Linked DNA regions of Homo sapiens: region 2 is linked to region 1. Evidence: fine-mapped expression QTL. A gene starts in region 1. The other region holds a variant in brackets. All regions are shown on one strand. Distances are between the middles of the regions. Region 1 holds the start of CNTRL (centriolin). Region 2 overlaps CNTRL (centriolin).

What was found.
Region 2: its variant is fine-mapped to the expression of CNTRL in whole blood (TOPMed, PIP above 0.99).

Annotation. Positions count from the first base shown.
Region 1 is chr9:121,071,000-121,082,454 of GRCh38, forward strand. CNTRL (centriolin) reads left to right here and starts at 3,956. Exons shown (of 44, transcript NM_007018.6): 1 at 3,956-4,068; 2 at 9,307-9,479. It also overlaps a transcript of C5 not described here. RefSeq lists enhancers at 1,128-1,177, 3,531-3,920 and silencers at 3,220-3,416, 4,041-4,100, 4,221-4,360.
Region 2 is chr9:121,127,306-121,139,161 of GRCh38, forward strand. CNTRL (centriolin) reads left to right here. Exons shown (of 44, transcript NM_007018.6): 15 at 8,501-8,677; 16 at 11,240-11,374. Among named protein-coding and RNA genes, the nearest start is that of CNTRL, 58 kb to the left of the region's middle. The variant A/C (reference allele first, on the strand shown) is at 5,953.

The DNA.
Region 1 (11,455 bases):
CTACATGTCATTTAAAAATAAAAATTAAGGTTGGGTATGGTGACTCACACCTACAAACCTAGCACTTTGGGGGACCAAGGCAAGCGGATACTTGAGGCCAGGAGTTGAAGACCAGCCTGATCAACATGGTGAAGCACTGTCTGTACTAAAAATACACACACATACACAAAAATAGCTGGGCGTGGAGTCACACACCTGTAATCACAGCTACTGGGGAGGCTAAGGCACAAAAATTGTTTGAACCCTGGAGGTGGAGGTTGCAGTGAGCCATGATCGTGCTACTGCACTCCAGCCTGGGCAACAGAGTGAGACTCTGTCTCAAAAAAACAAAAACAAGAACAAAAAACAAAACACACCAACAAAAACAAAAAAAAATAAATGAATAAAAATTAAAAAAAAATCAGGCTGGGCATGCTGGCTCATGCGTGTAATCCCAGCACTTTGGGAGGTTGAGGTGGGAGGATCGCTTGAGCCCAGGAGTTTAAGACCAGCCTGGGCAACACAGCAAGACCCCATCTTTACAAAAAGTTTAAAAATTAGCTAGGTGTGGTGGTGCACACCTATAGACTGAGCTATTTGGGAGGCTGAGGGAGGAGGATCACTTGAGTCTGAGAAGTCAAGGCTGCAGTGAGTTATGATTGTGTCACTGCACTGAAACCTGGGTGACAGAGTGAGACCTTGTCTTAAAAAACAAAACAACAAAATCACACTGGCCAGTCACAGAAAGAAATGGCAATAATGAAAGTTGCCATCCCTGTCTGACAAACTAGTCTGTTTCTTCTCTAAAACAAATTCGCAAAATGATTAAACTGGGTTGCAAAAAGCTGAGGGAAGTTTAAACAGAATAGCTTTGCTATCATTTGGAAAAAAGACTGAGTAAAAGCTTGGTCACCCTGACGTGGCTAATATTTGTATTGTAAATGCAACTCAGAGTACATTCTTCATAATATCAGATAAAGAAAAATAGTGTGGAACGCGAGTTGTCTGCGTTACTTTCGTATTCTCACTTCTGCTTTGGAGAAGGAAGTTCTTTTAGCATGCTAAGAGAGACAGTTAATATTCAAATTAACTGGAGAAAGGTCTCTCCTTTGAAGTCTCTAGCTTCGTTAGAGATGATGCTAGACACCAGCAGAGGTCTGTATGAGGAGGAAAAGGGGGCAACATGGGACCGGTGAGTGCCCATCCGCGGCTAACTGGATACGGACTGAGAGATCACCCAAGAGAAAAGTGTTTTGCGCCACCCTCTGGACTTTTTATGTATATTTGATGGCTATTAATTGATACTAATATGATTGATAATGAACTACATCAGCACACCACGGCTTGATAATGGATCCCACGTGAATACCATTACAGACTTTGAGGGACACAGCAATGAGGTTACGCAATAAATCTAAGTTTCTGGGTACAAGAAACCGAAACGATGGGTGTCAAAACATATGCAAATAGAACTGAAACTCAGCAACGTACACATTCCAATCTAATAAATATCACCTGAACTTCGATTAAAAATGAATGTAATCTCGGCAGGGCGCGGTGGCTCACGCCTGTAATCCCAGCACTTTGGGAGGCCGAGGCGGGCGGATCACGTGAGGTCAGGAGATTGAGACCAGCCTGACCAACATGGTGAAACTCTGTTTCTACTAAAATACAAAAATTAGCTGGCCTTGGTGGTGCGTGCCTGTAATCCCAACTCCTCGGGAGGCTGAGGCAGGAGAATCGCTTGAACCCGGGAGGCGGAGGTTGCACTGAGCCGAGATCCTGCCACTGCACTCCAGCCTGGGTGACAGAGCCAGACTCTGTTCAAAAAATTAAAAAAAAAAAAAAAAAAAAGAAAAGAAAAAAAATGAATGTAATCTCCTCTTAAGTGGAGCTTTTCAAAAATTCTGCGTTTAAACTCCAAGGGCTTCGTTCTGTGTCGTGTAAATAGTTGGGGAGAGGACAGCACCATTCACTTAAATGTCAATGGGAATCACATTTAAGTAAAAGGAAAAGGAAATCAGTAAATCAAAGTAAATCAAAGACACATCTGCATCCCCATGTTTATTGCAGCTTATTCCCTGTTGGACGTCCCCTGAATTTCCTATAGAGGTGAAGCCATCTCTGCCTTAAGGAAAAATGAAGTGCCTAATACTGCTTATAATATGGTCCCTTTTCCAGATTTAGCTTCTCCACCCCAGATTTTTGCACAAGCCATACTGAACTACTTCATGTTTCCATACTCATGTTTTGTTCCAGCCACACTGAATTACTTAACATTCAGCACATTGCCAAGCTCTTTTCCCCCGCTTCCGGGGTTTGCACAAGTTGTTCCCTTTGCCAAGCAAATTCTTCCCCACCTCCCTACTCCTTGCCTAAACTCTTCTTTTGGGCGTAGAAAGAAGTATTGCTTCTGGGTAACCTTTGTCTAATAATGAAATATCTAAGACATATTGAGAACTTACTATGGGTCCCTCACTGTTCTAAGTTCTTTCACAGAGATTCACTTTTATAATTATCAGGAAAACTGGACTTTTTTTTTTTTTTTTTTTTTTTGAGATGGAGTCTCGCTCTGTCGTCCAGGCTGGAGTGCAGTGGCGCGATCTCGGCTCACTGCAACCTCCGCCTCCCGGGTTCAAGCGATCCTCCTGCAGCCTCTCAAGCAGCTGGGATGACAAGCGTGCGCCACCACGCCCGGGTAATTTTTGTATTTTTAGTAGAGACGGCGTTTCACCTTGTTGGCCAGGCTGATCTTGAATTCCTGACCTCAAGTGATCCTCCCACCTTGGTCTCCCAAAGTGCTGGGATTACAGGCATGAGCCACAGCGCCCGGCCAGGATTCACTTTTATAATTATCAGGAAAACTGTAGGAAGTGTTAATAGGTAAAAGGACCTCATTTCATAGATAAGGAAACTGAGACACAGAGAGAGAGGGAGTTTCTAAAAGTGTTATACAGGTGGCCTATAAACTCTGTAGTGAAGAAAGGAAATGAAGACAGGATAGAATGATCGCGAGAAAATGGTAAGAACAAGGGACTGGAAGACGCAAGGAAGTTTAGAAATACGCTGGCATAGGGGTCTTTTGAGCAGGCACGCTGCTAAGATGATAGGATTATAGTCAAGGATGGGGAGCGATTGCACTGGGGATTTCTGGAGCGGGTGCAGCCTCTGATGGTAACATGGTCCAGGGTATACCTTCAAAACGGGAGGCTACTGGAGTGAAAGGCGTCAATGGTGATAACACTTTAAAAAAAACTTCAGTGTTTCCCTAGCATCCAGCCCAGTATCTGCTAAATTCTTTAAAATATCTGTTGAATGCATGTCGTGAACGCCGTGCTCATGGGCAAGCCCCAGATGAAGCCTGTGCAAGTGCTTCTTGCTTTAACTCCCTTGTAGCAATCAGAGGAACATCCTCTGCCTAGGATTCCCAAGCTCCCTGAACCTCACGCGACAGCTGGAGCCCAGGCTGCGTCCGCTTTGAGGTTCATCCGAGCCTGGGCAGTTCGGTCCCTGGAGGGAATTCGCTTTAGATACGACTGTCAGAGAGAAGTGTGCTGATAAGAACACTCGCTCATAGCGCGCAAGCATCAGAAGTGGGGGAGGCCGGGGAGGCGCTGCGCCGGTGCCTCAGGCCGTCCTCGGACACAGGCCCTGAGAAGCGTGTCCGTGTTTCAGAGGGTGGCGGCGGCAGCTTTGTCTCAGCGAAGGCCACAGCACTGCGGGCAGCTGCCGCATGAAACCTCGGCTCCCCCTGACTCTGCACCCGACACTTCACCTGCAACGCAATCCGAAGGCGAAGGCACCGCATCCCGTCGGCCCCGCGCGGCCGGAAGCCTCGCGCCCAAGACTCCCCGGCATCCTAGCGCGCTGGCTGCAAAAGAGGCGGGAAACGCCTCCGCGTCCCTTCCAACAGTACCGGAGAGGGAGAGGGGCGTGGCTGAGACTAGCCCCGACCACGCGCGCGCGGCCCCTCGGCAACCGGCACAACACAACAAAATGGCTGCCGCGCCGCTGGGCCCCTGAGGAAAGAGCCCGAACTTCTCCCGCTCTACCTCAGCCTGCGGGACTGCTCGGCTCGGCTTCTAGGCGGTGAGCGTCAGACCTGGCCGAGCCCGTTCCCCGGCATCCGGCCCGAGCAGTGGGGGCCGGCGGCAAAGGCGGGAAGGCCCGGACCGGGCGTGGTGTGGGCCGGCTTGGGATGGATTCGGGGCGGGGGCGCGTGTCTGGGAATTGGGATTGGACGGGAAAGAGGGGAGGGCCCGGAACGGGCGTGGGGCGGTGGATGAAGGAGGGAGGTTTGGATGGGAAGAGGTGGGGACGGCGGGGGCGATTGGGGATGAAGAACCAGAGTGTGGGGAGGTGTGGAAGTTAGGGTGCGGCGCCCAGAAGGTTGTGGGTCCTGCCACCTGAGCTGAGGGGAGAGCTGGGATGTGCCAGCTGTCTGTGGGGAGTGAGCGGGAGAAAGGACAGTTTGGGCGTCCTGACGGGTTGTCACGGTATCGGACGGAGTACAGTGCGTGGAGAAAGATGACAGGATATGGGGACGAAATGCTAAAAGAAGGGGAAGAACAAACACTTCCGTTATATTCGTTAAGGGACTAGAGAATTTTGAAGCCAGACAAACTTGGGTTGAAGCCTCAATTCTGCCACCTTGTGTAACTTAACCAGGTCTGTGACCCTGGATATGTGTCTGAGCCTTCCTGATCATGTTTCCTCATTTGTCCAAATAATTGCGAATCATTTTTGGGTGTTCACTATTTGTCAGATCCAGTTTTAAGCACTTTGCACGTATTAACCTCATTTAGAATTTAAAATAACTTGTATGAGGTTATCATCCCCATTTAAAAAGTGATAGCACTGAGGACCAGAGAGGTTAAGTAATTTGCCTAAGATCACACAGTAAGTGGAAAATCAGAATTTGAACTCAGGCTGTTTCGTTCCAGAATCCAAGCTTTTAACTGTTCAGGTACATTGCCATTTGTAAATCAGGTTAATAATTCTGATCCTATACAGCTAAATCTTTGAGGATTTAAATTTGGTATTGTCTAAGTGTTTAGTACAGTCCTTCAGTCAACAAATATTTATTGTTTATAGAACAACAGACAAAACCTCTGCTCTCTTGTAGCTTATAGTCTAGAAGGAGAAACAGGCAACAACCAAGTAGTTTCACAAATAATGGTTATAAAATGCTATGAAGGAGACTGCTTGGTGCAGAGATCATGGGTAATAGGGAGATAAAATCTTCTGCATCTTGAGCTTAGATTCTAGCATGGTTCTTCCTACATAAAAGTTGCTCAATAAAATTGAATAATTAATGGAAAGAGATGGGAAGCTTGAGTTTTAGGGTATCTGAGCAGAAGAAGAGAGATGGGAGAGGGGATTCAGGCTTTTAATAGGATGGAGAAGGATACGGGGGCTAGAGTATTAGGATGGAAAGGCAAATAGGCAGGCAGTTGGGTTGGGATGAAGAGGAATGGATGGAGGTTTGAGTATTTTGTTTAGGGAGGGGAGTAATTGGAGGTCAGAGTATTGGAACGCATTAGGATGTCAGGGTATTTTCTGGGGTGAAGAGAGATGAGCAGCTTGGGAAGTCTGGATGGATAGAGAAATGTTGAGTCTGGGCACAGGAAAGAACCATAGAGAAATGGGGGAGACTATTACTGTGTTAGGGAACTGGGATAGAATTTGTGGGAAAATTGGCAATCAGAATGGGATAAAGAAGAATGGGAGGCAGAGGTGGGTGGGCAGCACAGAATGGGGGAATTGGCTTTGGAAAGAAAAATGGCTGGAGACTTTGCAGAGGAATCGGAATCAGGATATTTGAAAGGAGGAGAAGATTAAGGAGTAAAAGTATTTCAGTAGGTCAGAGGGTATGGGATGAAGTAGACTTGGAAAGTACTGAAATCCAATTAAAGGGCTAAGGAGAGGGATATGGGGGTTAATAAATGGGGATGGGTATTTGCATATTAGGGAGTCTGTAGAGAGACAGAAGGAGGTCTGCGTTATTTGGAGATCAGAGAAGATGGGAAGTTAGGAAGGTTAGGAAAGGCTGGATGGAGGTGGAGTTTGCAGTCTGTACTAAGCTGTGATGGACTGAATTGTTAGATCAGAGCAACTATCTGGGTTTATAGGTGGCAGGATGGGTAGTGTTTTGTTGCCTGGACGTAGGATTCTGATTATCATGTCATTCCAATGGCTTTCTCTTGCTCTGCAGACAGCCTTTAAAATACAACTGCAGCTCTGAACTTTATTTGCTTTTTTTTTCTCTTTATCCTGCTCCTTTACTCGCCCTAGCCTACCTCTCAGTTGTCTTCATTTTTCCATTGCTTGCTTGGTCTTTGTTCATGTGATTGCAAACAACATCCTAGATCAAACTACATCCTCATCTCTCCATTAAAATTATAATTCAGCATTTACCACCTCCAGGCAGTAGCCTAAGAAATAATGCCAGCCATTCTCAAACACTGTAAACCCCTAAGCCCACTTCACTGAGTTAGCTATTCTCTGAGACTGATTACGTCTATCTTGTTTCAGTGTCCAAGCTTTACAGAAGCTGTGGCAACCAAGGGTTTAAGTCTATGAATGAGTAAGCCTGACTTTTACTAATCAGGAGAGGTAATAAAGGACCTCATGATAGTCTGGTGAGACCTAAAGGGTCTTGATCATTAGGATGTAAAAACTACAGGCTGGGCACAGTGGCTCACACCTGTAATCCCAGCACTTTGGGAGGCTGAGGCAGGAGGATCACTTGAGCCCAGGAGTTCAAGACCAACCTGGGAACTATAGTGAGACCCCCCATCTCTACAAAAAATAAAAAATTAGCCAAGCGTGGTTATATGCGCCTGTAGTCCCAGCTACTCAGGAGGCTGAGGTAGGAGGATCACTTGAGCCCAGGAAGGCAAGGTTGCTGTGAGCCATGAGCATGCCACTACACTCCAGCCTGGGTGACAGAGAAAGACCTTGCCTCAGGGGGGAAAAAAACGCCAACTACGTACTATACATACTATAATAAATGTCATCTTTTAATCCATTTAATTAGGAATAAGATTTTACCTAAGCACATGCCTCTTAGCTTTTCTCAAATTTTAGAGTATTATCCTTATTTAGAAGGAGAATGCCAGTGCAGCTTAGCAGCATCAATAGTATTACTGAGGGCTGGGCATGGTGGCTGTAATCCCAGCACTTTGGGAGGCCGAGGTGGGTGGATCACCTGAGGTCAGAAGTTTGAGACCAGCCTGGCCAGCATGGCAAAACCTCATCTCTACTAAAAATAAAAAAAATTAGCCGGGCGTGGTGCTGTGCACCTGTAATCCCAGTTACTCAGTAGGTTGGGGCGGGACAATCACTTGAACCTGGGAGGCGGAGGTTATAGTGAGCCGAGATCACACCACCGCACTCCAGCCTGGGCAACAGAGCAGGACTCTGTCTCAAAAAAAGAAAAAAATAGTATTACTGAGACTACAGATTAAACTCAATTTCTCCCACTATACGCTCACAACATGATTCCGTAGGATTTTCCCCCACACATTAAGCAAGCAGTTAGTTCTGCAGTGGTGGGCACCACAGGACTGTCCTCTAGTTCAGTTCAATTCTGACACTGTCTACCTGGAGACAGCGTCACATCCCTAAGGTTGAAGGCTGGCTTACAAGACTGCCCCCAAGTTCTGATGCCAACTGTAAGCCTCAGTTTTACCTGTGCTTCTGACTGACCAGCTATAAATCAGAGTTCCCACAACTCCCTCCTTGGGTTTGATTAATTTGCTAGAGCAGCTCACAGAATTCAGGGAGCACTTACTTACATTTACTGGTTTATTATAAAAGATATTACAAAGGATATAGGTGAAAAGATGCATAGCGTAAGGCAGGTGGGAAGGGGCGTAGAGCTTCCACACCCTCTCTGGGTGGATTCCCCTCCAGGACCCTCCCTGTGTCCAGCTTTCTGGAGGCTCCCCAAACCCAGTCTTTTAACTTTTTATGGAGGCTTCATTATGTAGGCCTGATTGATTACATCATTGGCCATTGGTGATCAACTCAACCTTTAGCCCCTCTCCCCTCCCTCTTTCTAGTGACCAGCCACGATCCTGAAGCTGCCTAGAGGTGGCTAGCCATCAGTCAACTCATTAGTATACAAAAAGACACTTACGATAGCAAAAGGGACTAAGACTAAGTATGTATTTCATAATATTAAAATTACTAAAAGACTTTTTTCCATGGCAAAATTGTGTTATAAGGCACAAAAATTGTTTACCACGCTTGAAATTTAGACCAAAAAGCCTTGTGGAAATGGCATAAATAGCAGTTATGTAACTTGGGGGAGTTTTTCTGATCCATATGTATAGTTTAATATGAGAAAATGAAGGAAAAAGTACAGATACATTTAAGTTCACAGTTTGAAGTACAGGTTGAAGGCCAGGTGTGGTAGCTCATGCCTGTAATCCTAACACTTTGGGAGGTAGAGGTGGGAGGATTGCTTGAGCTCAGGAGTTCGAGATCAGCCTGGACAACATAGTGAAACGCTGCCTCCAAAAAAATAAAAATAAAGTACAGGTTGATTATCTCTTGTCCAAAATGCTTGCTATCAAAAGTGTCTTGGATTTTGGATTTTTTCGGATTTTGGAATATTTGCTTTATACTTGTTTATATTTTTTACATTTATATTTAAATATTTCAGATTTTCAGATTTGGAGTGCTTAACCTGTAGTGAATGAGGCTATTGGAATGGGGCATTTGGCTATATTGTAATGTATGTGAAATAATAATCAACTTTTTAAAAACAAAAAAAGACGGGGTTTTTATTCCTTTCAAACTACTCACCTTGAGAGACCGGATCATGATATCAGAGATCCTTTCTTTGTATAAAATTTTCTGGGTTTCCTTCAGGATTTTTTTTGTTTTGTTTTTTTGAGATGAAGTCTCACTCTGTTGCCCAGGGTGGAGCGCAGGGGCACGATCTTGGCTCATCGCAACCTCCACCTCCCCAGTTCAAGTGATTTTTGTTCCTCAACCTCCCAAGTAGCTGGGATTACAGGCACCTGCCGCCCATGGCATCATGCTAGGCCATAGAGAACAAAGGAAACATAATCTAGACTCCAGGAAACTCAGATAGCTATATGACATGGTCATTAAAAACATGGGTTTTGAATTAAATCACATTTCAAGTTTTGGCTAAACCAATTAGTTAAGGAATTTTGGACAAATTATTTAAGATCTTCATCTGTAAAATGGGAAATAACACTTATCTCATAGAGTTGTTGTATTCAATTCTTTCAATATGATGATACACATAAAGAGCTTATCACAACATATATTTGTCTGTCTGTTTTTTAGAGACAGGGGCTCCCTGTGTTTCCCAGGCTGCAGTGCAGTGGCCAGTCACAAGGTTGATCATAGCACATTGTAGCCTGGAGCTCCTGGGATCAAGCAATCCTCCTGCCTCATCCTCTGGAGTAACTGGGACTGCAAGTATACATACCGTGCCTGACGAAATATCACAATATTTGGTGCGTGGTAAGCCCTCAGTAAATGTTAGCCACTAGTATGATATTCTTTAGAATTAACTTCAATCATCATCTTTTCATTAAATTTTTGGAAGTAGACAAAATTCATATGGAGTCAAATTTACTGAGTAAGGTTAGTGATCAAACTGGGAAAATAAAAACAAAGTGTACCTGAAGCGATGGACCCGATTTTCTTGTGAGACTTAAGAATTAGTTTGAAAGCAGAATCCAAAGAGGAATTCCAAAAATTGAATATATTAATAGATTATATTAGTGTAATCTCTCCTTTATATACTGTATAAGTTCTGTAGGGGAGGAAAGGGAGTAATTCCTTTCTGGCCCATCATAAAGGTCATGGCCAACACCCCTGTAACAAAGACAGGTTGACTAGAGAAAAGCATAGCAAATTTATTCGATCAAAGCTTTATGTGTCATGGGAGCCTTCAGAATGAAGACCCAAAAAATGCAGAAAAAATTATCCGTTTTTATGCTTAGGATTAGTGAAGTGTGGACAGCTGTATAGAAATAGGATTGGACAAAATGGGTATGATCTAACGCTAATAGACTGAGTGAGGAAACTCAGCAACACCTACCTCTCCAGATTTCTCTTGGCCTCTCTGTGCAGCATTCCTTCCTCCTGGGTATTGGGTAGGACCCCTATGGAATGAGAGTCTTAATTTCTTTATGGCCAGCTGTTAGAAAGCTGGGAGTTTGCAGGAAGTTTCTGTATAATCACAGCTTATATGTACCCATATGCTTGTGAAGTTATATTATCTTTTAATAGAGATATGAAAAACTCAAAATGTTCTTCCTACTGCCGTACCACACAGTACAATACTTGTGACATCAGACATGTAAGGGTTGTTGCCCCATACACCAGATACTTCTTCAGTGGACACCAGCTGCATGTCCTCTTATTCAGTTCAATTCTGACACTGTCTGCCTGAAGATAGCATCAGATCCCACAGGTTAAGGACTCAGTCCCACAAGAGTGCCACCAACTTCAGATGCCCATTACAAGTAGTAGATTGCCACCTATACTTCTGACCACCAAGCTATAAATTGGGACTCCCACTGCCCCCTCCTTGGGTTCAATTAATTTGCTTGAGTGGGTCACAGAACTCAGAGAAATACTACTTACATTTTCCCATTTATTATAAAGGATATTACAAAATAAACAGCCAGAGGAAGAGTTGCATAGGGCAAGGTACGTGGAAAGGGGTATGAAGTTTTCATGCTCTCGCCAGCATGCCATCTTCCAGACACCTCCACATGTTCAGCTAATTGGAAGTTCTCTGGACCCTGTCCTTTTGGGGTTTTATGGAGGCTTACTTATGTAGGCGTGATTGCTCACATCATTGGCTACTGGTTATCAAATCAATTTTAGCTGCTCTCCCCTCCTTAAAGGTTGTGGGGTTGGGCTTAAAGTCCCAACCCTCTAAACATGCCTTAGTCTTTCTGGTGACTGGCCCCCATCCCAAAGCTGTCTGGGTGTCACCAGTCATCTTATTAGTAAACGAAAGACACTCTTATCACTGTGGAGAACCCAAAGGTTTTAAGAGCTATGTGATAGGAAACAGGAGGAACATCAAATATATAGGTTAAAAGAGAAATTATCAACACATTAAATTTAACAGTTTAATTGAACAAAGAATAGTTCACAAATTGGGCAGCCCTCAGAACCAGAAGAGATTCAGAGAGATCCATTCTGCAATGTAGGCAGGCAGCATTTATGGATAGAAAAGGGAAGTGAGGTACAGAAATAGCTTGATTGGTTATAGCTCTGTGTTTACCTTATTTGAACATGGTACGATCACTTGACTGCCTGTGATTGAAGCTCAGCTGCTATGATTGGCTGAGACTCAGCTATTACAAAAACATACTCCTAAGTTAGGCTTTCAGTTAGTTTACCTTCTAAGTTAGGTTGCAGTTCATTATGTAGAGACTTAAAGTACAGAGGCACTTTCAGGCAAAATTTA
Region 2 (11,856 bases), 57 kb after region 1:
ACACATCTTGAACACATGGGGACTATGCTCAGAAGCAGAACTGTGGGTCAGAGTATGTCCATCCTTCATTAAGTTCAGTAGATATTGTCAAATTACTTTTCATAGTGAGTTTATCAGCTTCTACTCCCACCAGCAATGTGGGGGCTACCATTCTTGCCACATCCTTGCCAACGCTGTAGTGTTGTCCAACTTTTTTTTAAAGCTTATATTTTGAAATAACTCCAAACTTGCAGGAAAGTTGCAAGAGGAATACAAATAACTCACATTTGCCTTTCACCGAGAGTCACCAATTACTATTTTAACACATTTGCTTTATCTCCTCATATGTAATTTCTACATGATTTTATATACTTTTTAATTATTATTATACTTTAAGTTCTAGGGTACATGCAGATTTGTTACATAGGTATACATGTTTCACGTTGGTTTGCTGCACCCATTAACTCGTCATTTACATTAGGTATATCTCCTAATGCTATCCCTCCCCCCTCCCCCCACCCCACGACAGGCCCCGGTGTGTGATGTTCCCTGCCCTGTGTCCAAGTGTTCTCATTATTCAGTTCCTACCTATGAGTGAGAACATGCGGTGTTTGGTTTTCTGTCCTTGTGATAGTTTGCAAAGAATGATGGTTTCCAGCTGCATCCATGTCCCTGCAAAGGACATGAACTCATCCTTTTTTATGGCTGCATAGTATTCCATGGTTTATATGTGCTGCATTTTCTTAATCCAGTCTATCGTTGATGGACATTTGGGTTGGTTCCAAGTTTTTGCTATTATGAATAGTGCCGCAATAAACACATGTGTGCATGTGTCTTTATAGTAGCATGATTTATAATCCTTTGGGTATATACCCAGTAATGGGATCGCTGGGTCAAATGGTATTTCTAGTTCTAGATCCTTGAGGAATCGCCACATTGTCTTCCACAAAGGTTGAACTAGTTTACACTCCCACCAACAGTGTAAAAGCATTCCTGTTTCTCCACATCCTCTCCAGCATCTGTTGTTTCCTGACTTTTTAATGATCACCATTCTAACTGGTGTGAAATGGTATCTCATTGTGGTTTTGATTTGCATTTCTCTGATGGCCAGTGATGATGAGCATTTTTTCATGTGTCTGTTGGCTGCATAAATGTCTTCTTTTGAGAAATGTCTATTCGTATCCTTTGCCCCCTTTTTGATGGGGTTGTTTTTTTCTTGTAAATTTGTTTAAGTTCTTTGTAGATTCTGGATATTAGCCCTTTGTCAGATGAGCAGATTGCAAAAATTTTCTCCCATTCTGTAGGTTGCCTGTTCACTCTGATGGTAGTTTCTTTTGCTGTGCAGAAGCTCTTTGGTTTAATTAGATCCCATTTGTCTATTTTGGCTTTTGTTGCCATTGCTTTTGGTGTTTTAGTCATGAAGTCCTTGCCCATGCCTATGTCCTGAATAGTATTGCCTAGGTTTTCTTCTAGGATTTTTATGGTTTTAGGTCTAACATGTAAGTCTTTAATCTATCTTGAATTAATTTTTGTATAAGGTGTAAGGAAGAGATCCAGTTTCAGCTTTCTACATATGGCTAGCCAGTTTTCCCAGCACCATTTATTAGTGATCCTTTCCCCATTTCTTGTTTTTGTCAGGTTTGTCAAAGATCAGATGGTTGTAGATGTGTGGTGTTATTTATTTCTGCAGTCTCTGTTCTGTTCCATTGGTCTATATATCTGTTTTGGTACCAGTACCATGTTGTTTTGTTTACTGTAGCCTTGTAGTATAGTTTAAAGTCAGGTAGCGTGATGCCTCCAGCTTTGTTCTTTTTGCTTAGGATTGTCTTGGCAATGCAGGCTCTTTTTTGGTTCCATATGAACTTTAAAGTAGTTTTTTCGAACTCTGTGAAGAAAGTCATTGGTAGCTTGATGGGAATGGCATTGAATCTATAAATTACCTTGGGCAGTATGGCCATTTTCACGGTATTGATTCTTCCTACCCATGAGCATGGAATGTTCTTCCATTTGTTTGTGTCCTCTTTTATTTTGTTGAGCTGTGGTTTGTAGTTCTTGAAGACGTCCTTCACATCCCTTGTAAGTTGGATTCCTAGGTATTTTACTCTCTTTGTAGCAATTGTGAATGGGAGTTCACTCACGATTTGGCTCTCTGTCTATTATTGGTGTATAGGAATGCATGTGATTTTTGCACATTGATTTTTGTATCCTGAGACTTTGCTGAAGTTGCATATCAGCTTAAGGAGATTTTGGCTGAGACGATGGGGTTTTCTAAATATACAATCATGTCATCTGCAAACTGAGACAATTTGACTTCCTCTTTTCCTAATTGAATACCCTTTATTTCTTTCTCTTTTCTGATTGCCCTGGCCGGAACTTCCAACACTATGTTGAATAGGAGTGGTGAGAGAGGGCATCCCTGTCTTGTGCCAGTTTTCAAAGGGAATGCTTCCAGTTTTTGCCCATTCAGTATGATATTGGCTGTGGGTTTGTCATAAATAGCTCTTATTATTTTGAGATACGTGCCATCAATACCTAGTTTATTGACAGTTTTTAGCATGAAGGGCAATTGAAGTTTGTTGAAGGCCTTTTCTGCATCTATTGAGATATCATGTGGTTTTTGTCATTAGTTCTGTTTATGTGATGGATTATGTTTATTGATTTGTGTATGTTGAACCAGCCTTGCATCCCAGGGATGAAGCCGACTTGATCGTGGTGGATAAGCTTTTTGATGTGCTGCTGGATTCGGTTTGCCAGTATTTTATTGAGGATTTTCACATCGATATTCATCAGGGATATTGGTCTAAAATTCTCTTTTTTTGTTGTGTCTCTGCCAGGCTTTGGTATCAGGATGATGCTGGCCTCATAAAATGAGTTAGGATTCCCTCTTTTTCTATTCATTGGAAGAGTTTCAGAAGGAATGGTACCAGCTCCTCTTTGTACCTCTGGTAGAATTCAGCTGTGAATCCATCTGGTCCTGGAGTTTTTTTGGTTGGTAGGCTATTAATTATTGCCTCAATTTCAGATCCTGTTATTGGTCTATTCAGAGATTCAACTTCTTCCTGGTTTAGTCTTGGGAGGGTGTATGTGTCCAGGAATTTATCCATTTCTTCTAGATTTTCTAGTTTATTTGCATAAAGGTGTTTATAGTATTCTCTGATGGTAGTTTGTATCTCTGTGGGATTGGTGGTGATACCCTCTTTATCATTTTTTATTGCATCTATTTGATTCTACCCTCTTTTCTTCTTTGTTAGTCTTGCTAGCGGTCTATCTATTTTGTTGATCTTTTCAAAAAACCAGCTCCTGGATTCACTGATTCTTTTGAAGGGTTTTTTGTGTCTCTATCCCCTTTAGTTTGGCTCTGATCTTAGTTGTTTCTTGCCTTCTGCTAGCTTTTGAATGTGTTTGCTCTTGCTTCTCTAGTTCTTTTAGTTGTGTTGTTAGGGTATTGATTTTAGATCTTTCCTGCTTTCTCTTGTGGGCATTTAGTGCTATACATTTCCCTTTACACACTGCTTTAAATGTGTCCTAGAGATTCTGGTATGTTGTGTCTTTGTTCTCATTGGTTTCAAAGAACATCTTTATTTCTGCCTTCATTTCATTGTGTATCCAGTAGTCATTAGGAGCAGGTCGTTTAGTTTCCATGTGGTTGAGTGGTTTTGAGTGAGTTTCTTAATCCTGAGTTCTAATTTGATTGCACTGTGGTCTGAGAGACAGTTTGTTGTGATTTCTGTTCTTTTACATTTTTTGAGGAGTGCTTTACTTCCAACTATGTGGTCAATTTTGGAATAAGTGAGATGTGGTGCTGAGAAGAATGTATATTCTGTTGATTTGGGGTGGAGAATTCTGTAGATATCTATTAGGTCTGCTTGGTGCAGAGCTGAGTTCAATTCCTGGATATCCTTGTTAACCTTCTGTCTTGTTGATCTGTCTAATATTGACAGTGGGGTGTTAAAGTCTCCCATTATTATTGTGTAGGAGTCTAAGTCTCTTTGTAGGTCTCTAAGGACTTGCTTTATGAATCTGGGTTCTCCTGTATTGGGTGCATATATGTTTAGGATAGTCAGCCCTTCTTGTTGAATTGATCCCTTCACCATTATGTAATACCCTTCTTTGTCGCTTTTGATCTTTGTTGGTTTAAAGTCTGTTTTATCAGAGACTAGGATTGCAGGCCCTGCTTTTTTTTGCTTTCCATTTGCTTGGTAGATCTTCCTCCATTCCTTTATTTTGAACCTATGTGTGTCTCTGCACATGAGATGGGTCTCCTGAATATAGCACACTGATGGGTCTTGACTCTTTATCCAATTTGCCAGTCTGTGTCTTTTAATTGGGGGCATTTAGCCCATTTACATTTAAGGTTAATATTGTTATGTGTGGATTTGATCCTGTTGTTATGATGCTAGCTGGTTATTTTGTCCGTTAGTTGATGCAGTTTCTTCCTGGCATTGATGGTCTTTACAATTTGGCATGTTTTTGCAGTGGCTGGTACGGGTTGTTCCTTTCCATGTTTAGTGCTTCCTTCAGGAGCTCTTGTAAGGCAGGCCTGGTGGTGACAAAATCTCTCAGCATTTGCTTGTCTGTAAAGGATTTTATTTCTCCTTCACTCATGAAGCTTAGTTTGGTTGAATATGAGATTCTGGGTTGAAAATTATTTTCTTTTAAGAATGTTGAATATTGGCCTCTACTCTCTTCTGGCTTGTAGAGTTTCTGAGAGATCTGCTGTTAGTCTGATGGGCTTCCCTTTGTGGGTAACCCAGCCTTTCTCTCTGGCTGCCCTTACATTTTTTCCTTCATGTCAACCTTAGGGAATCTGACAATTATGTGTCTTGGAGTTGCTCTTCTCGAGGAGTATCTTTGTGGTGTTCTCTGTATTTCCTGAATTTGAATGTTGGCCTGCCTTGCTAGGTTAGGGAAGTTCTCCTGGATAATATCCTGAAGAGTGTTTTCCAACTTAGTTCCATTCTCCCTGTCACTTTTCAGGTACACCATTCAAACGTAGATTTGGTCTTTTCACATAGTCCCATATTTCTTGGAGGCTTTGTTCATTTCTTTTTACTCTTTTTTCTCTAAACTTCTCTTCTTGCTTTATTTCGTTAATTTGATCTTCAGTCACTGATACCCTTTCTTCCACTTGATCAAATTGGCTACTGAAGCTTGTGCATGTGTTACGTAGTTCTCATGCCATGGTTTTCAGCTCCATCAGGTCATTTAAGGTCTTCTCTACACTCTTTATTCTAATTAGCCATTCGTCTAATCTTTTTTCAAGGTTTTTAGCTTCCTTTCAATGGGTTCAAACATCGTCCTTTAGCTTGAAGAAGTTTGTTATTACTGACCTTCTGAAGCCTACTTCTGTCAGCTCATCAGAGTCATTCTCCATCCAGCTTTGTTCTGTTGCTGGTGAGAAGCTGCCATCCTTTGGAGGAGAAGAGGCGCTCGGTTTTTAGAATTTTCAGCTTTTCTGCTGTGGTTTCTCCCCATCTTTGTGGTTTTATCTACCTTTGGCCTTTGGTCTTTGGTCTACCTCCAGATGGGGTTTTGGTGTGGATGTCCTTTTTGTTGATGTTAAGGCTATTCCTTTCTGTTTGTTAGTTTTCCTTCTAACAGTCAGGTCCCTCAGCTGCTGGTCTGTTGGAGTTTGCTAGAGGTCCACTCCAGACCCTGTTTGCCTCGGTATCACAAGTAGAGGCTGCAGAACAGCAAATATTGCTGCCTAATCCTTCCTCTGGAAGCTTCTTCCCAGAGGGGCACCCGCCTGTATGATGTGTCAGTTGGCCCCTACTGGGAGGTGTCTCCCAGTTAGGCTACACGGGGGTCAGGGACCCACTTGAGGAGGCAGTCTGTCCGTTCTCTGAGCTCAAACACTGTGCTGGGAGAACCACTGCTCTCTTCAGAGCTGTCCTACAGGGACGTTTGAGTCTGCAGAAGTTTCTGCTGCCTTTTGTTCAGCTATGCCCTGCTCCTAAAGGTGGAGTCTAC[A/C]TGTAGAGGCAGAGGTCTTGCTGAGCTGCGGTGGGCTCCGCCCAGTTCGAGCTTCCTGGCTGCTGTGTTTACCTACTCAAGCCTCAGCAATGGTGAACGCCCCTCCCCCTGCCAGGCTGCTGCCTCCAAGGTCTATCTCAGACTGCTACACTAGCAGTGAGCAAGGCTCTGTGAGCATGGGACCTGCTGAGCCAGGTGTGGGATATGATCTCCTGGTGTGCTGTTTGCTAAGACCATTGGAAAAGCACAGTATTTGGGTGAGAGTGTCCTGTTTTTCCAGGTACTGTCTTCTGTGAATGTACGGCTTCCCTTGGCTAGGAAAGGGAAATCCCCCGACGCCTTGCATTTCCTGGGTGAGGCGATGCCCTGCCCTGCTTCGGGTCGCCCTCCATGGGCTGCACCCACTGTCCAATCAGTGCCAATGAGATAAACCAGGTACCTCAGTTGGAAATGCAGAAATCACCCGTCGTCTGCGTCGATCACGCTGGGAGCTGCAGACCAAGCTGTTCCTATTTGGCCATCTCGGAACGGGATTCAATTTTATATATATTTTTATACAGATTTTTTTTCCTGAACCATTTGGAAATCAGTTGTAGACATCATGCTCCTTTGCTTCTAAATATTTCAGTATGTATTTCCTATGAACAAGGACATTTTCTAACATAAACACAGAATAATTATCAAATTTAGGAAATTCAGTATTTTATCAGACTTCATGTTTGCCAGTCTGCTGAGCTTTAAAGGACTTCTTTCCATCTTTCTATTGTGAAGATGTTTACAGTTACAAGAAAGTTGAACAAATAGTTTGGTGAACATCTGTGAACCTCTTGGATTCAATAAATATTTTGATTTATTTATTTTCTCTTTCTCATAGACACATACTTTTTTCCTTTGCTCATTAGAAAGTTGTAGATATCATAACATCATCCCTTCAACACACATTTTTTTAAGAGCATTTTCCTGCATCACTACGATATCATTATTACACCTAAGAAAAATGACGGTAATTCCCTAATGTCCTCTAATATCATTATTATTTTTTTTTTTTTTTGAGATGGAGTCTTGCTCTGTCACCAGGCTGGGAATGCAGTGGCATGATCTTCGCTCACTGCAACCTCCGCCTCCCAGGTTCAAGTGATTCCGCTGCCTCAGCCTCCTAAGTAGCTGGGACTACAGGCGTGTGCCACCACGCCTGGCTAATTTTTTTGTGTGTGTGTTTTGGTAGAGATAGGTTTCACCATGTTGGCCAGGATGGTCTCAATCTCCTGACTTCGTGATCCACCCGCCTTGGCCTCCCAAAGTGCTGGGATTACAGGCATGAGCCACTGTACCCGGCCCTAAGGTCCTCTAATATCTGAACCATATTCAGATTTTCTTGATTGTCCCAAGAATGTGTGTGTGTGTGCACATGCGTGTGTGAAATCCAGGCTGGTATTCTGTAGATTGAACCACGTTCTGGGTTTGACTGATTGTTTCCTCATGGTGTGTTTAACTTGTATCTCTATGTTCTATGTAAAATAGTATCTTAAGTTAACTGCATTTTCCCCTGGTTACTGGAGAGGCTGATCACCTTTCATTTGCTGTTCAAGTTTCCTCTTGAGTGAATTCCCTATTCTATTTTTTGTTGAACTGTCTCTGCCTTTTCTTAAAGATTTGTAGGAATTCTTTACATATTCTGGATAATAATCTTTGGTTGGTTATATGTAGTATCTATATTTTAAACAAGCAGCCCAAATGATTGAATTGCCAAGTGGTTTTTGGACAATTCTTTTGTAGAAGTTCTCATCGTAGAATCCTCCTCTTTAATCTGTAATAGTTTGATCCCAAGTAAATAGATGAAAGAGATAAGGTTTAATCACAAAACACAAATGGACTAAAATGAATCAGAACCATGGTATGCTAATAAATATGTACTTATATTCTTGTTAGCACTCATTTAAGGTACTCTTATCATCCTTAATATTAGAGAGTGCCGGTCCCATTTTGTTCTTCTGATAAATGAACATGCTATGGTTTAATAGAGAGAGTATGGGCTTTGGAGTCGGAGATCTACATTTGTATGCTGACTATCCTTTTTCTAGCTACATAGCCCTGTGCAATTTACTTAGATATTCATTCTACAATTCCTCATCTGTAAAACCGCAAGTTGCCTTATACAGTTATTGTGAAGATACAATGAAATAATGAATATGAAAACATTTTGTCCAACATCAGATGAAAAATAAGCATTAAATCTTATCCTACTCTTTTTTTCCTTCCTTTCTTCCTCCTTATGTTTTTAGACTCATAAGTATCACAGAACTGGTCCCTTTGAAAAACAATATGTTGGGAGCTTACTGACTTTCTTGATTACATTTAGCCAGGGTTTTGTTTTCCAACCAGGATATGCACAACCTGAGGCTTCGTCATATTGCTACTGAAAACTTTGTGGCAGGCATCAGTAGCTGGCCAGCATTTGGTTTACAGTGCTCAAGTTACTTATAATGCCTTGCAAATGCTTAAGCAGCACAGTGAGGGTTCCATAGTTAAACCCACTGAATCTTTCTAGGAGCTTGCAGAGCTAGAAAGTGCCCTCCAAGAGCAGCATGAGGTGAATGCATCTTTGCAGCAGACCCAGGGAGATCTCAGTGCCTATGAAGCTGAGCTAGAGGCTCGGCTAAACCTAAGGGATGCTGAAGCCAACCAGCTCAAGGAAGAGTTGGAAAAAGTAACAAGACTTACCCAGGTAAGTAGGAGCATGAAGCCAACTGCAAACTAAGGACCCTGTGCCTTAAGATATCATCCTTCTTTTATTTATGTCTTAATTTAAAATTAAGCGTTTTTTCATACAATATATATGGAGTGATGGGAAAGGCAGAATTTTGGAGTCAGACATTGTGAGTGCTAATAACTACCCCTGTGTGAACACGGGCAAATCAGTTCATAGCTCTGAGCCTCCCAGCCTTTTCCTCCTGTGTAAAATGGCTTATGGGGAAGATAAATGAGATAATGGACATGAAAGCACCTGACAGTTGATACTCAATAAATGCTAGTTTTTCCTTCTTAGAACAGGTTTAAGGACTTTTTTTTTTGAGACAGAGTCTTGCTCTGTTGCTAGGCTGGAGTACAGTGGCATGATGACGGCTCACTGCAACCTCCGCCTCCTGGGTTCAAGTGATTTTCCTGCCTCAGCCTCCTGAGTAGCTGGGACTACAGGTGCGCGCCACCATGCCTGGCCAATTTTTTGTATGTTAGTAGAGATGGGGTTTCACCATGTTGGTCAGGCTGGTCTACAAACTCCCGACCTCAGGCGATCCACCCACCTCAGCCTCCCAAAGTGCTGGGATTACAGGCATGGGCCACCGTGCCTGGCCGAGACCTCTTTTAGGTTGATGATAAGTTGTAGTTTGCTGTCTCCTTTTAGGGTTGGTTGAAAGATCCACTAGTTTAAATTATACTTGCAAGTTACAGAAAACATATCCAATAAATATTTATTGATTGGCCATTGAGGGCCAGGTACTGTGGATTCTCTAGGGAAAGCACAGACATGGTCACCATCCTGTGGAGCTGACAGATCTCTGATTGGTAAACTTTAGTCCAGCAAGTGAAACAGGTATGGAAGAAAGAAAGGGACAGGATTCTTTGGCCAAGGAGGAAGTAGTCAGGGAAGACCACCCTACAGAAATGATGTTTCAGCTGATGGCTGATGGATGAGTAGGATTTGGCCACGCAGAGGGGACAGGGTGAAAGGAGTAAAGGTAAGGTATTTGTATTCTAGGCAGAGAGGTGAGGAGAGAGAGCATATAGTACATTTGAAGTGCTGAACGTATGCCTCCAGGATGCCAGGAGCAGGGAGAGGAGTGAGGAAAGAGAATGAGAGGTAAAGGCAGAGAGGCAGGCAGAGGCCAGTTGTAATATATTCTTTATCAGATTAAAAATACAATTTATTAGCCAGATGAGCTGCATCTTCTTTCAGGAAGCCCACCTCAACCTTTCCTTTCTGCCTGCTGAAAATCTGGGTTCAGGACTCTACTTTGGTTTTCCTATAACCTGTGCACAGTAAAGGTATTTATCATGCATATGATGATCATCTGTTTAGATGCTCCTAGATGATCTGTTTGTTTTACCCCAGCTAGACTCAGAGCTCAGTGAATGCCCAAATTGTATCTGTTTGTTTCTGCTTTTTCTGTGCCTGGCATATGAGAAGCGTCAATATGTGCCTATTTGATGAAAATGAAATAAATAAGATATTTTGAATCTCAGGAATGCATGTAAAAATAATTCATATGGTTAGAAAAGGAACTAGAAATATATCTGGTTTATTATAGTAATTATGTATATTTCTTTACTTATGAGATATCAGATCATCACTTGACAGTTGTCAGGATTGTATTTCTCGAGTACCGAGTTTTGTAGAAGTATAGTTGACAAGATCAGAGTCTCAGAAATCAGGAGGTTTTAGGAAAACAATTAAAATAACAGTAAATATTTTAAAATAATAATAAATAAAATTTCTAGATGGCATTTTCCTTAATAAATTCTCCTCTTTTCAAGCCAGACTGTACTAGCTTGAAATACACTGTCCTTTGTACTTTGATTGGCTTTTATTTTCTTCTCATAAGTCTTGACAAAATTATTTTAAGAGCCTGGCCTTTTCACCAATTCACTTGGTATTGAAAGGGACATTCCCCCTCCCTCAGCACCAAGACTGCCAGGATTGGTCTTCAAACCACACATTGAGAATATGAAGCATAACAGATCTCCTGTCTCTGATCTGAAGATCTACAGATCTCTGATTGGTAAACTTTAGTTGCATGAACTCACTTGTGATGCTTGATAAATACAGATTCCTTGGCCCCACCCACTCTAGAGATTCTGATCCAGAATCTCTTTTCTGAGATAGAGTTTAGGTGTCTGCATTTTTAACAGACATACCTAGTGTTGATACAGTTTTTTTGAGGACCACAGTTTGAGAAATACTAGTCTAAGGGAAAGGAGAGCAATAATTGTTGGATCACTTGCAGAACTTTTAAAGGTAGGTGCCTCGGCCCACCCCTGAAGATTCTGATTTGGTGTATTTGGGCTGAGCTGATTCTGATGCTTACTCCTTCTTAAGTGTTAATAATAGTTTAAGGATTGTGTGAAAAAATTATCTTTGGTTTTTAAATTTGGGAGTACAAACATAAAATTGAGTTGTAAAACTATAGCTAGCAAGGGATTGTGTGTATATGTAAATTTATTTGTGCCTTTTAAAATCATAAATTATTGCTGTTTTACACTTTCATGTCATTGCTTCCTATGGTGACAGTTAGAACAATCAGCCCTTCAAGCAGAACTTGAGAAGGAAAGGCAAGCCCTCAAGAATGCCCTTGGAAAAGCCCAGTTCTCAGAAGAAAAGGAGCAAGAGAACAGTGAGCTCCATGCAAAACTTAAACACTTGCAGGTAGAGATTTGTTGTTTTAGAATACATTCTTACACAGAACACCCAAAGATGATGATATCTTTAGTCAGGCACTTAGCAACCTGCTCTAACATGTAGTAAGCAATTTGAATTACTAGAAAAAAGGGAATTCTGGGTGGAGCAGCACCATAGCTCCTGTTCTCTTGTGACCATTGTTTTAAGATTATTATTTGTGAATCTCCTTTTGTTTTTATGATGGTGCAAAGAGATAGAGGCAGTGTCAGTAGTAAACAATATACTGTGTAAACTCATGGGCAAAAGCAGTATCTTGCTTTTCTTCTAAAAGCAGATTTGTCACCAGACCAAACTAAAAGGATCAGATTGGTGCATCCTCTTCCACTGAAATGTCTTTGTAATTATCCAGGAATTTAACTAGAGTGAGTTGCAGTGGGATTTCTTATCTGTAAATAGTTTTCACTACCCTCTTCTCGGAAAGGATGCTATTAAAAATGTCATCATTTTTT